2 separate regions of the Homo sapiens genome follow, and region 2 is linked to region 1. The links come from fine-mapping of genetic effects on gene expression. A gene starts in region 1. The other region holds a variant in brackets. All regions are shown on one strand. Distances are between the middles of the regions. Region 1 holds the start of SLC9A3 (solute carrier family 9 member A3). Region 2 overlaps SLC9A3 (solute carrier family 9 member A3).

Region 1 (8,313 bases):
CCTGCACCCACCCAGACAACAAGGAAGCACCCAGTGCCTCAGATTTGGGGCCGGGAGCAGGGAACCTGGCGCTCAGGGATCTGGGTCTTGACCCTGTCCAGTTAAGGAGGAGGTGCTGGAACCCCAAGGCTGAAGCTCCTGCAGAAAAGCATTCCCACACTCCCACAGTGGGGGTAACGCCGCTCAGAGGGGGGTGGGGGGGCTGCGCCGCTCAGAGCAGGGGGCTGCACTCCTGACCCTGTGCCCTAGCGTCCTCCTGACCCTCCTACGGCTGCGCGAGGCACTGCAGACTCCAGATACCCGTCTCGCTCCTGCCTGCCCTTCCAGCCAGGGTTCACCAAGATGTGGGGCGGCCTGGGCCTCCGCCATCACATCCCTCAGCAACACAAGCTCCACTTCGAGAGCCTGCCCCCACCGCCCCCACCCAGCCCCACTGTCCTGGTTTCCCCGTGGGCAGTCACTGCCGCTGCTCAGGTCCTAACCCTCAAGGCGCCACCTCCCTGAGCCAGCGCTGCCCAGCTCTGGAGTTCAGGCCCCATGGGATGTCAGCTCCCACACCTCCTGTGCGTCCACGACCCAAGGGGTACCCACGGCCAGACGCCTGGGGACAAATAGACCCAGCTGGGCCTAGAATCCACTCCCGGCCCCAGCCCCTCCCCGGTTTCCGACATCTCAAAATTGTAACTCCCCCAGTTCCCTTTTGGTCGGGTCCTGTCGCTCATGTGTGGCTCAGAGCTGCAGGGCGAGGTCAGCGCAGCAGAGCCCCCCGAAGGGTTGAGAACAGGATGGGGCCAGGAGGTCTGGCCCCTGCTGTGTCACTGATGACCCTGTGACATCCCCACTCCTGCTTCAAGGAGGCCCTGCTGTCCACCGCCCTGATGCCCAAGGGAAGCTCCCCACCATCCTCCCGGAATCTCCCCGGTGCCATTCTCTGCCCCATGGCCAGGCAGTCGTCTGAGAACTCAGATCTGACCACATCCACTCCTCACCACGACGCTAGGTGGGGACCAAAGTCCTCCAAGGCCTGTAGCTGAGTTGCTCGGGCCTCCCTCTGCCTCCCCAGGGACCCACCCTAGGCCTCCTCCTCTGGCTTCTGACACCCCCGCCTCCCTCTCCTTCCAGGGGCCCATTGCTTGCAGTCCTGACACCTGCCACTGCCTGGATCCCACCCCAGGGCCCCCACCCAGTGCTGCCAGGCCTGGCAGTCTCTGCAAGGCACAGCCTCAGCCCCCAGAGGAAGCCCAGGAAGGAAGGAAAGCCTGGCCCAGGGTTCCCAACACGGACGGTGCAGGGTGAGGCGGGGATTCTGGTGGGCACCTAAGGCCTAGAGTGGCCCTGGTGCGGGTGGCTGCAGGCTGGGGGCCCCCAAGGGGCACAGGAGGAAGCCCCCTCACCCTGCCTGAGGCAGACACTAGGCCCTGCCGCCTCCACTGCTAAAGACTTCCTCGTCCTCTCAGTCTGGGAGGTCTGCGCTGTGGAGTGGCTCCGTGGCCTCGGCCCTTGCCTCCCCTTCTGCATTTTAAAAAGATGCTGTAAAAGGCAGGGGAACCCCAGTGCACACAAATAGGGGGCTTGTGGGGAGCCCTTGCCGGAGCCAGACACGCGGCCTGAGGCTGGTGGGCCAACAGCAGCACCTGTTCCTTGCCCAGGCTCCTGGGCCACCTGCTGAGGCCCCAGCCCCAGTGTTTGCTTGAGGCAGCTCTGGCCCTCTGGCCATCCTCTGTCCCAAGCTGCCTGGAGTAGAAATCTCCTGGGATCAACATTGCTGTGGGTTTCAGGGTACCCGGACTCTTATTTCCCCAACCAGGTTACAAATGGCTTGAAGAAGGCTGGGGCTGTGAGTTAGAAACTCTCAGGATGTGTGAGAAATTCAACAAATGTTTGGAAAAGCAACAGGAATGGCAGCTCTTTTCTGCTGGAAGAGACATTTCTGTTCGTGTAACTTGAGACTGAAAGAGTGTGGCCAACCCCTGACCATTTTAAACAACAAAATGTGCCAAGCAGCTTAGTAGGTTCAGACCCCAGTCCGGGGGCTGTGGGCATGTGGAGGAGGCTGGGTGAAACTGGAGAAGTTCCCGCTGTGGTGCAGGCTTGGGCCCCGGTGTCTGTGAAGGCCTGGACCTGAGGGTCCTCTGGGAACACAGGTCGTGCACCTGAGGCTGGCTGCACAAGGAGGACGGTCTGGGCCAGTGGAATCTGAGAAGTCCAGAGTTCACAGGGAAGGGGTTGGGGGAGGAAGCACACAGGGAGGGCTGGGGGCTGTGTTCAAGAGGTGTGGCTGGCAGAGAGGGGATGGAGGGTGGGACACCCTGGGGGCCAATCCGGGCAGACCCAGAGCAGACCTCAGCTGTCACTGCCGGGGCTGCAGAGTGCACAGTGGGTTGAGGGGACGACAGGGAGCGTAAAGGGCAGGTCTGGAGAGGGTCTGCGCCTGTGGGATACCGCGATGAGCTCCCACAGCTGCACAGGGTAAGGCTCGCCTTCCCAGGTGGAGCCAACAATCCGAGACAAAGACAGCCGCTGAGTGCTATCAGGGTGGGCCTTTGTAAAGGACCGCCCTGCCCCGGGGAGTTGCTGCTGGAGCCGGCAGCCTCCCCGCCCTCAAGGACGTCTTCCCAGAACCAGTCCAAGTGTTTGGGAGACCTGAAGGCTTTTCCCTGTGAATAACAAACTCTGAGGCCAGGCAAAGCCCTGGTCAGTGTGCCTTATCTGCCGGCTCCCAGGCGGGGCTGGCTGGTGCCTGGCGGCTGTCATTGGACCTTCAGATGCCAGATTCTGACTCTGTACACTGGGCTAAACTGGGAGAGGCCCCAGCTTGTACAGAAATTAGATATTCACGGCCGGGCGCGGTGGCTCACGCCTGTCATCCCAGCACTTTGGGAGGCCGAGGCGGGTGGATCACCTGAGGTCTGGAGTTCAAGACCAGCCTGACCAACATGGAGAAACCCTGTCTGTACTAAAAATACAAATTAGCTGGGCGTGGTGGCTCATGCCTGTAATCCCAGCTACTCGGGAGGCTGAGGCAGGATGTGGAGGTTGCAGTGAGCCGAGATCGCGTCATTGCACTCCAGCCTGGGCAACAAGAGCAAAATTCTATCTCAAAAAAAAAAAAAAAAGAAAAAAAAAGAAATTACCTTTTCAGTTTACACCAGGGGGGCACTCCCGTCAGAGGAAAGCAGGGTGAGCTTTAGGACTGGGCGGCCGCAGAGCCCAGGTTGAGTCTGGACCTCCCTGATGCCCCAGGGGCCCTTCTCAAGGAAATCAACTGTAGGAGGCAGCCAGCCTCAGAGACTCCCCCCCGGCCAGCATCCCAAGCCCCCAGTGGAAAGCCCAGGGAGGACAGCCTGAGCCTGGAGAGCAGGCAGCCCGGCGGGGAGCTGAAAGACACCAGGGCGAGGAGGAGGCTGCGGAGAAGGGAGGAGGCGGGAGGGCTCAGAAGAGCCCTTATGAGACAGAAAGCAAACACACAAGGGGCCTGAAGGGGAGGGGAGACCCTGGCATAAATAGGGCAGGCGGCAGGCGTCACTGAAGGAAAAGGCGCCTTCTCCAATCAAGCCTGCTGGGCGTACCAGGTTCCACCAAGGCCAAGGTCCTCTCAGCTGTTCTCCCCGGAGCCTGTCCCTCCCCTGTCCTGCGTGGGCGCCCCTCCTCGGCCCCAGCATCGAAACCTCCTCTCGCCCCAGTCCAAAGCTGCTCTGGAAACCTGCCGCGGCGCCTGCTGCTCTGATCTTGCTTCTCCTGGCCCCACTCGGGCCCCCTAATCCCCCCTCCACACGAGTGACCACCTCCCTGCCACCCCTGGAGAGACCCTACCCTGTGGACCAACACATGAAACTTTGATCCCCACGAGCTCCTCAGGAAGCTGACCTTCCTGTCACCTTGCCAGGAGCTACCTGCCGTGCCCACATTACTGGTTCATTGGCGCCGGTTAAGAAGAAGAGAAATCTGACCGACCGGGATTTTCTAAAAAAAAAAAAAAAAAAGGAGGCCCGCCAATGGGAACGCTGCGCCTGTAGGGAGGATTCTGCTGGGTTTCATGCGGGTAGCACCGCTTTTCTTTTCTGCCCTTGTAACTCACGAAAAAACGCCATCACTCCAAGGACGTTTCTCTAAAAAGCCTGAGAACCCCGAAGGAAACCCGGCCCCGGGGACTCCCTGGGCGCGAGCAGCCTGCAGTCTGCGGGGCTCGGAGCGGAGGCGGGGCGGAGACCCCACAGGGACCCGGGAGCCGGGAGTCCGGGGCTCCGAGGCTGTGCCCCCGCCGGGGAGGGGAGACCTCGGGACCCGCAGGGGCGGCTTAGCGCGGCCAGAGTCGCTCCCGAGTCTCGCTCTGCTGGACCCGAGAGCCGGACTCTCCCGGGCGGCCGCCGCGCGGCTCCGACCTGATGCGCGCGGCCACAACGAAGCCCCCAGGCCCAGCAGAGGCGGCCGCACACCCCGCGGGCAGATCCGGAGACCCCGGGGCCACTTACCGATCTTGGCCAAGCTGGCCACGAGGATCCAGAGCGCGATGACGTAGGGATCCTGCACGTGGGCCCACTCGAAGGTGACCACCTGGAAGCCCCCGCTCTCGCCGTGCGCGCCGCCGGGCTCCACCTCGACGCCCCCGGCCCGCGCCAGCCCGCCCAGCGCCAGCGCCAGCAGCAGCCCCCGGTCGGGGCCCCGGGCCCCGAGTCCCCACATTGCCGCCTGCTCAGCGCAGGGCTGGGACGCGCATGTCGCGGGGGGTCCCGGCTGGGCTGGGCCGACGCGCGGGGCTGGGACCCGGCGAGGACCCGGCGCGCTCCGGTGCCGGTACCGGCTACAGTCCGATCCCCGCCCGCCGGGGTGGCCTTTAATCCCGCGGCCCCCTCCCGCCCCGGGGCGGAGCCTGCCCGCCCCCGCCGCGCACTCGCGAGCGCAGACACCGCCGCAGCTCCCGGCACGCCCGCCCCGCCCGCGCACGCCCACCCCGCGCTCCCTGGTGCCCACCCTCCCCCGGAGCCCGCGGCCTGGAGGTCCGGGAGGTCGCGGCAAGAGCGAGCCCGGGACTGCGCGGCCGCCTTCCTGGGGCGTGGGGAGCACAGCGCGGGGCAGCGGGACAGGCGGTTCCGCGCAGCTCCTGGGATGCCCGGGCAGCTGTGGGTGCGCTCGCCCCAACCCTCCTTCATAAACGCAGGGCCTGGGGCTGCGCAGACCCCACAGGGCGGCCCAAGGGTGCACAGGGGCCCCAGGTGTGTCTTCACACAGCCCCTCGCTATTGTCTTCAGCAGGAACCTGCATTCCACAGCCGGACCGGCCACTTACCAGAACTCGGGGGCGCCCAGGCCTTGCGTGGTGCGCTGGTAAGTCTCTCTGCCCCTCCCATCGCCAGCCAGCATCCCCCACCCCAGGCTCTGAGATGGGAGCCCAGGGGCCCCCGTGGTCTCCCCTGCCCCATCCCCTGCCTTTAGACCTCCGCCCAAAACAATTCGATACCCCCAGGGCTTCACACGGATGCGGGGCCTCTGCCCACAGCCCGCTCCGGCAGCACTGGCTCTCTTAAGCATCTCAGGCTCCACTGTGCAAACCACACCCCTGTTTTCCTCCAAGCCCACCCTGCAGCCTTCCAGCCCCAGACCTGGGACGCAGGTGGACTTCTTTCGCTCACAAGGTTTCCAAGCTCTTAGCATATCTGCTCTACTTTCAAAATGTGCACAAAACCAGCGGCTTCTGGGAGCCTGCAGCCACCTGCAAAGGCTCCTGCTCGGCCCTCTACCTGCCCCTTCAGTCCCTCCTATTGGGACCCTCCCTCTCAGAGGAAAGGCTCAACGTCTCCCGGGAGCTCAGACCCCAGCCACTGCCTGACCCCCACCCCCATGCACTCCACGGCCCACACCAGCAATCGGCGCCTCTCGGGGCCTTTGCACGCCCTGCTCCCTCTGTTTGGACGGCTCTTGTGTGCTCCCTTCCTCAGCTCCCCAGGGGCTTGGCTCCAATGCCACCTTCTGGTCCCACCCGATACCCACTCAGCTCACAACTGTGGCAGCTAAGCTCCCGCCTCCCCTGCTTACTCGGTTGGCTCCGGGAATCAGCTCACCTCCCAGCCCTGGGGGCTGCTGGCTTTGACCTTGAGCTGTCTGCCCTCACCCTGGGAATGTCTGCTCCACGAGCAAGGGGCTCATGCATACATCCCAGGAGCTTGGAAGATAGCTGGGCACACAATAGCACTCGCAAGATAGTGGCTGAGCGGATGGATGATAGATGGATGGAAGGACAGATAGGTGGACAAAGGGCAGGTGGGCGGTGGGGTGGGTGCAGATGGAGGATGGATGTGTCTTCTGACATCTGAGTGGGGGCTGCGGAGGCCTGAGGAGGACAGTGCTGAGTTCAATGACTTCACCCTGCAAGGGCCCCAGTTTCATGCTAATGGAAGTGGCCCGTGTAGCACAGGGAAGGTGCATTCAGATGGTGCTCGCCTGGTGACTCGGCTGCTGAGTGGCGTGGAGGGAGGGCAGCCCTGGCCTGGGCCACTGCAGGGTCTGGACAGGGCACCGGGGGAGTGGAAGTGTGTGACTGGCCACTAGTATGGTCTTGCGAGGTGGGAGCATCGGAGTCGCTCTTGGCCTGTGTCCCTGCCCCACCTGTCTCTGTCCCCCACTCCACTCCCAGCCTCTTGTCCCAGAGAAAAAGCCAGCAGGACAAGAACAGGATTCCCTCCAGTCCGGAGCTTCCCTGCTCTTTCCTTATGGTTCCTGGGTGGAGCCGTTAGGAACGACGTCCTCTCTGAAGATGTTGCCCTTGCATTCCACAGGAAGGCCAAATTTCCACCAGACCAGTGTGTTCCATGATGCCCACTGGACCTCCGGCCACCCCACCCCCCAACCAGCCTGTCCTAAGAGCCGACAACCTTTCTCCACAAAGCTGTTCAAAGGGCAGAAGAGCAGTGTCACTGCCTGGAAGGACAAATCCAGAACAGACACCAGTGCCAGGCGCTGGCCATCAGGTAGTGTGCTGCCCACACCTCCACTGCCCCCCACAGCAGGAAGGGCTGCCTCATGGAGAATAGAAAGGCAATGAGCCCCTGAAGTGGCGTGGCCAGAACAAGGCACACCCCACTGCCCACGAGTCCTGCCAGGGCACACCCCACTGCCCACGAGTCCCTGCACAGGTGAGAAGTGTGGCTGTTTGGCAGCATCTCAATCTGTGAGCATTTGGAGGATGAAATGCGTCTGCACTCCAAGGTTGCTGGAGGGCTCGGGGCAGACGGGCGCTGCCCCAGCCTGTGATGGGCATGGCCTTGAGGATGCCAGCCTCATGCAGAAGCCAGTCTAGGGGATTATACAGGGTGTGCACACCCACTCCCCTACCCTCGGACTGGAGCCACAAAACCCTCCCTCTAACTGGGTCGTGGTTTTAGGCAGGGCCGTGGCACCCCACCACTGCAGGGGCCACCATCCATATCAGGCAGACTGTATGAACCGTGCCCCTTGGAATTGTACAGTGCACAACCTGCACATCCTCATGGCCAAAAAGACCCAGAGACTTGTGTGTGTGTGTGAGGGGGTCTTGGGAAGTATCCTGAGAACATTCCTGTCCTGTGGGTGGTGACGATCTGATAACTGCCCGACCACTTCCTGCCTCAGGCAGGCACGCATAGCATTCTGGATCCTTCCACCGTGGCCTGGACCCCTTGTGGTCCAGGGACCCCCTGCACGTATGGGGAAGGGGCGTGGCTGTAAAACATTCAAAAATGTGGAAATAATGCAAAAGCCAGTCGGAAAACAACTGTAATCTTATACCCAGCTGCCACAGCATCTGAACTTCAGGATTAAGAAAATAAAACTGAAAACACCTAGTCTGTCACATTAATTTCCTGTCATGAATTCCACATACGGCTTGTGAAAGTGTCTTGTGGATGAAGAGGCGCATCCATTCATACTGTTGTTAACAATATTTAAGAGAAGAAAGTTAAGTTTTTAAGTAACTTCCAATGCTTGAAGCCAGGCAGGAGACAGGCATCACTGCCCACTCTAAGTTTATTTTTCAACCCAAAGTTGTCAGGGGCCAGGTCTTCTTAAGGAAGGTTTTATTCCACTGGGAGCCACACCTGCTGGCCTTCCCTTGGTCCACACCTGCTGTGTGCCAGGCACATCTCAGCTTCAGGCAAGAGGCCCCTCTGGGAGATGCCCTTCCAGGAAAGAGACCACCGCGCCCCCCCGTCATGCCACCTCCCGTCAATGCCACTCTTATTGGTTGTTGGATCCGGGGGATACAAATGTCTTTCTCAAAAGCAGATTAGAGCTCAGCCCTTCCCTTCCCGGGTGGCCTCTGAGGCCTCAGGTGGGACCTTTC
Region 2 (8,313 bases), 32 kb before region 1:
CTGACACCCACCACACTGACACCCACCACACTGACACCCACCGTCGTTCAAGGCACTGCACCTGCGGTACTTTGTCATGGCGGCCCTGGCAGATTACGTGGTTCCTATGGGATTTTGTTGTTTGCTATTCACGTATTTATTTTATTTGAGATGGAGTCTCACTCTGTCACCCAGGCTGGAGTGCGATGGCACGATCTCGGCTCATTGCAACCTCTGCCTCCTGGTTTCAGGTGATTCTCCTGTCTCAGCCTCCCCAGTAGCTGGGATTACAGGCGCGTGCCACCACCCCTGGCTAATTTTTGTATTTTTAGTAGAGACGGGGTTTCACCATGTTGGCCAGGCTGGTCTCGAACTGCTGACCTCAGGTGATCCACCTGCCTCGGCCTCCCAAAGTGCTGGGATTACAGGCGTGAGCCACCGCACCCGGCCACTCATGTATTTTTTAGGAACTCAGGAATGGGTGGCAGTAACTGTGGGTCCAAAGTCACAGACGCTCTGGGGACCAGGAGGGCGGGATTTCAACAGCGCCATCATTAACCCTGAAGCTATGGAGTGGGCGGGCAGGGCCTGGGAACTGTGGAAGATACAAAGAAGCCTCGCGAAAGCTGCCAGTCGTTCTGAGCTGGGAGGAAGGAGGTGGAGGGACGGGACGCCCCCGGGAGGGGAGTTTGAGGACAGGGTTTCACGCCCTCCTTTGCTGACTGACCGATGGGGGGTGAGACGGGGCCCAGGCCTCCCACGGCTCGCCCGCTCTGGAGCGGTGGCTCCGTTGCTCACCACGGTGACTGCGTCGTTCAGCAGCGACTCCCCGAAGACGATGATGAACAGGACCTCGTTGACATGGACCTCCTCAAACACGGCCAGGACGGCCACCGGGTCCACAGCCGCCATGAGGCTGCCAAACAGGAGGAAGTCCAGCAGCCCAATCTGCAGGTCGCCTGGAAGACAAGCCGGGCCGCGGGGCAGCTGCAGGGCCTGCCACCCGAGGAGGAGGGCCCTGGGGAGGCGCTCGCCTACGGGTCGGGGTTCGGAGCCCGTCTGGCTGGCGCCGGTGGCGTGGGGAGCTGGGTCAGCTTCCTGCGTCCCTCCCACAGACCCCCAGCCCCCTCCAGGGAAGGCTGCTGTCTTCCGAGGGGGCCACCCCATCTGAGCAAGACAGACAGACAGACTGACCCTGGCCCTGGCCCTCTCCTTCATCTTTGGGTGAACGGAGGCAGGTGGGTGCAGGGGCACCGCATGCTGGGGAGGGATGGGGGCCCATCGCCTGGAGTGGCGTCCCAGCCCAGGAGAAGCAAGTGGGGCTGACCCAGGACGGGCCCGGAGCCGGGACACACAGCACCCAGGGGCGCGGCCAGGGAGGGGCAGGTGGGAGGGCCGTTGGGGGTGTGGGGGCAGATTGTGGGGATGAGCAGGGCTGCGGTGGGAGCAAGGGGGCCCGGAAGACGTGGGTCCATGTGGTCCCTAGCTCCCGGCCGGCTTCCCTCCCCGCATCTGCCTGTGGGCTCTGGTGCCCCTCGCTGGGGAGGTTTTACTGAAATGCAGCCTTATCCTTCACAAGTCTTTGCCATTCAACCCAGGGTTCAGGCCTCGAGGAGGCCACGTGGGGGTGCCAGGCTCCAGGGGACCCTCAGGGAACTGAGTGTGGCCACGTGGCCCCGAGAGTCTGCCCTCTCTCACGGCCGCAGGGCTCAGAGGACACTGGGCCTCCTTGCTGCCTTCCCGGCCGTGAGGGTCCAGGGACCAGGAGACGCCAGGGCCGTGAGGGTGTGGGAGAGACCACCCAGGGAGGGGGAGGCCCCCGACGAGTCCCCCCGCACAGCTGCTGCCTCTCTGCTGGGCTGGAGCGGAGCCCACCACCCCTCTGGGCTGAGGCTCGGGCTGAGGAGGGGTTTGTCCCTGGAGCCGGACGGGCCCCAGGAGACAGCAGAGAGCAGCCTGGCCAGGGGTTTCTGTGCTGGCGCCTGGGAGGGGACAGATCAGGGTCATCTCTGCGGTGACTAAACCCCGAGTTTGCTGTGAGCTCCTAAGCCCCAGCAGCCTCTGGCCAGTGTCACAACACCCCGAGGAAGTGACAGATGCCAGAAGAACCAGCGTTCAGGGAGTTAAAGTTCCATGTTGGAACGGGAACCACACAAGCCTTCTCCTCTTCCAAACTCAGGCCTCAGGACACGAATCCCCTTCAAGGTCATCTTTAAACGCGGCCTCCTGGCACGGCCGCCCCCAGGGCAGTGATGGCCCCCATGGATGTCCTGGGGTCGGCCGCGTTCAGACTCCCCGGCCGGCAGCCTTCCCGTCTGGACAGTTGCCCACGGCCGTGCCAGGAGGGCTCATGCCACCAGACCGCATGTTCCAGGCCTTTCTCCACCACGTGCTTTGCCTGTGCAAGGGCCTCTGATGCCTGAAGCTCTCGCAGGGCCTGTCCCCACACTGCCCGGACAGCCCCCGGGCCAGCACTGCCATGTCGACCCTTTCCCATGGGGCACGTTTGGCCTTGAGACGCTCCACAGGGCTTGGCCTCTGGTCTGCAGAGATCAGTTGCAGCCTCCCAGCTCTCTTGGACTCCCAGGAATGGGATGGACCTGCCGGCCATGGGCATCTCTGTTCCAGAACCTCAGGCAGCACCCAGCTTTGACCAGCTGGGCCCCAAGGCTGAGCGCAGGCCTCCAGCATCCGTGTCACCTGGGGAGCGGCCTGCCCCAGGGGGCACAGCGATACCTGGGACACGTGTTTCTCATGAGGAGCGTTGTTGGAGGACGGTAGAGTCCAGCGTGGCGAGGGGCAGGGGTGGAGTGCAGCGTGGCGAGGGGCAGGGGAGGGCCAGGGGTGACGTCCTGGTGTGGGGAGTCCTCCAGGGCTTCATGGTGCAGGTGCAGCAAGGACGTCCTCCAGGCTCGGCCAGTTGCACCGAGGACATTCTGCTTCGTGCAAGGGAAATCCGGCAGTGTCTCTGGCCAATGCTAGGCGGGGACCATTGTGACGTGGCCACAGAGCCACGGAGTGTGCCCGGCTCTCAAAGGAGCGGCCCTGACGGCCAGACTGATCACAGGCTACTCCATCCCACACTCGACACAGCTGGGAGGAAGCTGGGATCTCATGGGCGAGGGGCCATCTGGCAAGGTAGGTGTGAGCCTCGAGGGGCCGCGGGTCCAGGAGTCTCTGCTACAACCCCTGAGGCTTTCCCTTGGGTGCGGTGGCTAGGGCGGCTGCCCCATCCGAGGTGTGTCCTGACCACCTATGGCATCGCCCACGTGACGGGCCTGCCATCCATGAGCCTGTCTGTGCCCTCGGCAGCTTTCCCTGGGCTGCACCTGGTGGGTGATGCTGGACGGCAGGGACTACAGGGAGGGGTGAGAAGGCGCCAAGGAACCACGTGCTGGGTGAGGCGGCCCCAACCCGGGAGCTCCTCTTTCTCCATGCGTCTCCTTGGTCTCAGGTTTCAGCCCCTTGATTCCCATGGAGAGGCCGGGCCGTGCTCTCTCTTGAACCAGACGGAAAATCGCCAATTCTTGTGAGTCTGGTTCAGCTGGTGGATTTGTTTGAGGCTGAGTTCTCAGACCGGTGAGGGCGGCAGGTGCCGGAGGCCTGCGCTCAGCCGTGGGGCCCAGCTGGTCAAAGCTAGGCTCTGCCTGAGGTCCCTGGACCCACCTGGTCAAAGCTGTAGCATCCCCGGCAGCAGCGGCGGGCATCAGGGCTGCACCGCACCTGGCATGTTGAGAGGCGCCAGCCACGCGTGGTCTGGGTCCGGGGCGGGAGGCAGTGCCCGAGAGATGAAGCATCCAAGACCAAAACCGCGCAGCAGTTCTGGCTCCGGCTGTGGCTGCAGCGGTGGCCGAGCGGCTCCGGCACACAGGCTGGGAGGGACGGTGCCCGATACACCAGGCTCTGCAGTCCTCCTCCTCTCCCTGGGACCTGGTGGCCGGCGAGTGTGGACGGACCCCTACCTCTGCCCAGTGCCGGAGGAAGAGCGGCAGCCCCTGGCCACCTGCAGCCCCCAAGCCGAGCTGCCGAGATGGGAACTCCTCCCCAAGCAGAACACGTGCTGGGACCTGGGGACGCGCAGGGGACTGGCCTTGGTCACGAGGGCCTACGGGGCTGCCAGCCACGTTTCTCACCTGACACTTACCGCCTGGAGGCCAGGGTGCGGCACCCCGACCTTTCTGAGATGAGGCAGCGCCGCCCCTCCCGGACCCCACCCTGATCCCGGCCGGGGCAACAGTGGCGCAGACTCACCCATGAGCCCACTGAGGAAGACGCCGTAGAGGGACAGCCCGGTGGTGGCCGCGTTCCACACGGTACCCACGACGGCGTACAACAGGATGGTCCCCAGGTTGCCGAAGAAGAGGCGGTTGGGCATGAAGTAGCCGGCGTCCAGCACGATGGGGGGCAGCAGGTAGAAGAAGAAGACGGTGGGCGTCAGTGTGAAGGACGCGATGTGGTCGGCCGCCCAGACGATGCCGCCCAGCACCAGGCCCAGCACGATGAGCAGGGCGCTCTCGGGAACCACGCTGGTGACCTTGTGGGACAGGTGGAACCCTGTGGGGGAAGGGAGGGAGGTCAGGGCCGGGCTGTGAGGGAGGGGAGGGAGGTCAGGGCCGGGCTGTGAGGGAGGGGAGGGAGGTGTGGGGACTCGTGGGGGAGGGGAGGGATGTCGGGGCAGGGCCTGTTGGGGAGGGAGGTCAGCGGGGACTCGTGGAGGAAGGGAGGAAGGTGTGGGGACTCACAGGGGAGGGGAGGGAGGTCGGGGTGGGACCCGTGCGGCAGAGGAGGGAGGTCAGGGTGGGGCCTTGGGAGAGGGCAGGTAGGTGGGGGGAGCCCATGGGGGAGGGGAGGGAGGTAGGGGGGAACCCACAGGGGAGGGGAGGGAGGTCGGGGTGGGACCTGCGGGGGAGGGGAGGGAGGTCAGGGCAGAGCCCTCGGGGGAGGGGAGGGAGGTCCAGGTGATCAGGTCCCACAGGGCTCAGAGCTGCAGGCATCTAAGACCTCCCCCGACTTTTCAGGGAGCCCAAGAGGGCTGGGAACGAGGAGAGTGCAGGGGCAGCTGCTGGAGCCCCCAGAAGGGAGTCAGTTGGAGGAGGGAGCCGGTGCTATGGGGTGGAGGCCCGTGCTGGATGGACGGTGGTCGGGGGGGGGCCTCTGACCTGCCGCCCCACCGCCCGGCTGGTTCTGGTCCCCCGGACCCCCAACTCGCTCTGTGCCTTTTGCCTTGGTGACCAAGGTCTGAGCTCACCCTGTCCCTGACGTTGTGGCCAGAGCCTGCTCCCACTTGAG[G/T]CTGGCTGTGTTTCAGACCCCTCCGGAGGGGCCCCATGGAGGCTGTGGCCCCCTCTCCTCGTGCCCCTCTCCTGGGATCACGGCCCCTGGGTGGGGTGTTCTAGGAAGAGTCTCTGGGTCCCGCCACTCCACTCCGCACGGGTGAGCTTAAGGGTGGACAGCAGGTCCTGGGGACCCCCCGTGGAGCTTCACCCCGTCCCCCAGCACCATCGCCCCTGCCAGGACCTCAGAGGCTCTGCCCGGCCCTGTGGGTGGGGGTGCAGGCACCAACCTATCTGGGCCATGTCTCCTGTGTTTTAGTTGGACTCAGAAAAAAAAAAAAAGGTGATGAGAATTCCTGCGCTCGGCCTGATTTCAAAATAGCGGGAAGCCTGACAAATGAGGTGCGTCCTCCGGCTTCGGTGATGTAAGGGATAATGAGCTTCTTCATTCCCTCAGCTGCTGGTTATTAAGTCTTCTTTGAAATTCAAAGGAAAGTTGTCTCCTGAGATGGCCAAGACCCCATTTAAGCACAGAGCAGCGGGAGCGGGGAGGCTCCCTCCACACCACCCGCCCCCGAAGAATGTGTCAGCACAGCTGGAGGGGCGGTGGAGGCAGTGGCCACGTCCCACCCTTCCCGACTGCGTGGCCCTGACGAGCTCGGCCCTCCCTGCCTGTTTTCTCCCTTGTAATTACGGAGCTCTTGCAGGGCCGGGTGCTGGCCCAGAGGAGGGAGGTGCTGTTCTGGATTTGCCGTTCCTTCCCCGAGGATGGTCTTACACCAAATACCACGGGTGGCATGGGCCCCTCTAGGGAGGGTGGCAGGCACAAGCTCCGCACCTGCCCGGCCACCAGCACTGCACTGCGGTCTCCCGACCCTGTCCCCAGGACAGCGGCTCTGCCTGCTGCTCCAGATTCCAAAACACCAGCCCCGGGAGGGATCGGGGTTCAGAGGCTCCTGCTTTCAGGATGGGAGGTCCTGCTGTGGGCCCCGTCCCCACCATGTGCCCCACAGGCTCTCTGAGCCCCCCGACGGCTCCCCCACTCCGGGCTGCACATCCTGCACAGATCTGAGCTCCACACCTGTCAGGCAGGGCAGCGGGGGTTGGCCCGGGGAGGCTGGAACCACGCGACAGTGATAACCAAACCAGGGGAGGGCATGGCCTGCAATGAGGGAGGGCCTGGCCTGGAATGAGGGAGGGAGGCTGTCCCTGGGGAACACGGAGGGTGAGCTCCCTGGAGTCCTCGGGGCCCCGCTCAGAGCTGGCCTGCAGGGTCCCGTCTGCTCCAGCTTTCAGCAGGAGAGCATCCGTAGGGTTGACCTTGCTCTCTCCCCACAGCTCTCCCTTCTCTAGAAGGTGCTCCCCAGCTGGGAGTGGCTGTGATGCACGTGAGAAGTCCTGGGACCCTAACGCGTGCCCCGACAGCCCCGTCCTCAGCAGCGCCCTCCCCAGATCTGGGCTCACGGGGCTGGCAGCCCAGCAGGAAAACAGGGGCCCCTCTTCTCTGGGCTCCACGGCCTGGTCCCTGTGGTGGCCAGGGACAGACCTGGCCTCGCAGAGCTTTGGGAAGAGACATGGGTGGCCTTCCGGGCCTGCGAGGGGAAGGCTGTGGCCTCTGCTCAGGGCAGCCTGGGACCCCCTCCACAGCCGGGACTCAGCAGGTTCTAGGCTGGCATGGGAGTCTGCACACTAAGGGCTCCGAGGCCTTTGGGAGTCCTGCTGGGGGTCCCTATGGTGCAGGAAGGCCTGGGGCAGGTGTTCCCACCTCTGCAGCCTCCTGATTTTTTTAATAATGTCCAGAGAGAAGTGGAGTTTACCACTTCCTTCCTTTCTTCCTGAGGGCTGTAAATCCCCGCCTTGGTGTCCCAAGCTGTGTTAGGAAGACCAGGGTGGTCTGTGCCCGGTGCCGGCGCCTGCCCACCCGCAGGCTGACCCGCGCCTCTCACATCTGTCCTTGGCGACGTCGTCACCTCTGCTGCTGGCGACGAGTGCCTAGCAAAGCCGGGCACAGCCGTGGTGATGGTGACCCCCTGGAGGCTGCCCAGCCGCTGGCAAGACCCACCCAGGCCGCTGTTTTCTACACGATGCACGTTCTTTGCCTCTGCCCACGTCCCAGGCTGGCTCCTGGAGGGGTAATCGGCTCACCTGTCCTCCTCTTTTCAGGGTCACAAGACCTGGGAGATGGTATTTGTCCAATAGCGCTTGTGGAGCAGCCAGCGGGGCACGTGTGGCCCCTCGGTGCCCGCCGGCACGTGGGCTGCTTTGAGGATAAAATCCAGCGACCACAGAGACCGCGTGTCCCCAGGTGGGGGGGCGCCGTGGCCGCAGGTCAGACCTGGGAAGCAGCGGGAGTCTCGGAGCTCCTGGACGCCCTCACCCTTGGTGGCTGCCGACACTTGGCCCGGGGTCTTTTTGTTGAGGGTTAGGGTCTTTCAGCCACAGTCTTCCAAAATTAGGTTCACAGCGATCACCACCGTTGTGAAGCCACCCCAGACAACCGCGGGCCAGCAAGTCAGGGACACAGGGACACAGGGACCAGCTTTGTCTTTAAAAACAACAACGCAACTCTGTGCCCTGGGGACTCACAGTGCTCCCCGCGCCATCGCCGACCCTCCCCACGCTCCACTCCCCGCGCCATCGCCGACCCTCCCCACGCTCCACTCCCCGCGCCATCGCCGACCCTCCCCACGCTCCACTCCCCGCGCCATCGCCGACCCTCCCCACGCTCCACTCCCCGCGCCATCGCCGACCCTCCCCACGCTCCACTCCCCGCGCCATCGCCGACCCTCCCCACGCTCCACTCCCCGCGCCATCGCCGACCCTCCCCACGCTCCACTCCCCGCGCCATCGCCGACCCTCCCCACGCTCCACTCCCCGCGCCATCGCCGACCCTCCCCACGCTCCACTCCCCGCGCCATCGCCGACCCTCCCCACGCTCCACTCCCCGCGCCATCGCCGACCCTCCCCACGCTCCACTCCCCGCGCCATCGCCGACCCTCCCCACGCTCCACTCCCCGCGCCATCGCCGACCCTCCCCACGCTCCACTCCCCGCGCCATCGCCGA

The links. PIP is the estimated chance that this variant, and not a neighbour inherited with it, causes the effect.
Region 2: its variant is fine-mapped to the expression of SLC9A3 in substantia nigra (GTEx, PIP 0.98).

The regions. Positions count from the first base shown.
Region 1 is chr5:519,640-527,952 of GRCh38, forward strand. It overlaps SLC9A3 (solute carrier family 9 member A3), which reads right to left and starts at 4,810. Exons shown (of 17, transcript NM_004174.4): 1 at 4,473-4,810. The coding sequence starts at 4,683. It overlaps LOC107986395 (a long non-coding RNA gene), which reads left to right and starts at 5,019. Exons shown (of 2, transcript XR_001742543.1): 1 at 5,019-5,324; 2 at 6,773-7,816. RefSeq lists an enhancer at 6,377-7,009.
Region 2 is chr5:487,539-495,851 of GRCh38, forward strand. SLC9A3 (solute carrier family 9 member A3) reads right to left here. Exons shown (of 17, transcript NM_004174.4): 2 at 4,231-4,533; 3 at 778-938. Among named protein-coding and RNA genes, the nearest start is that of SLC9A3-AS1, 18 kb to the left of the region's middle. The variant G/T (reference allele first, on the strand shown) is at 5,269.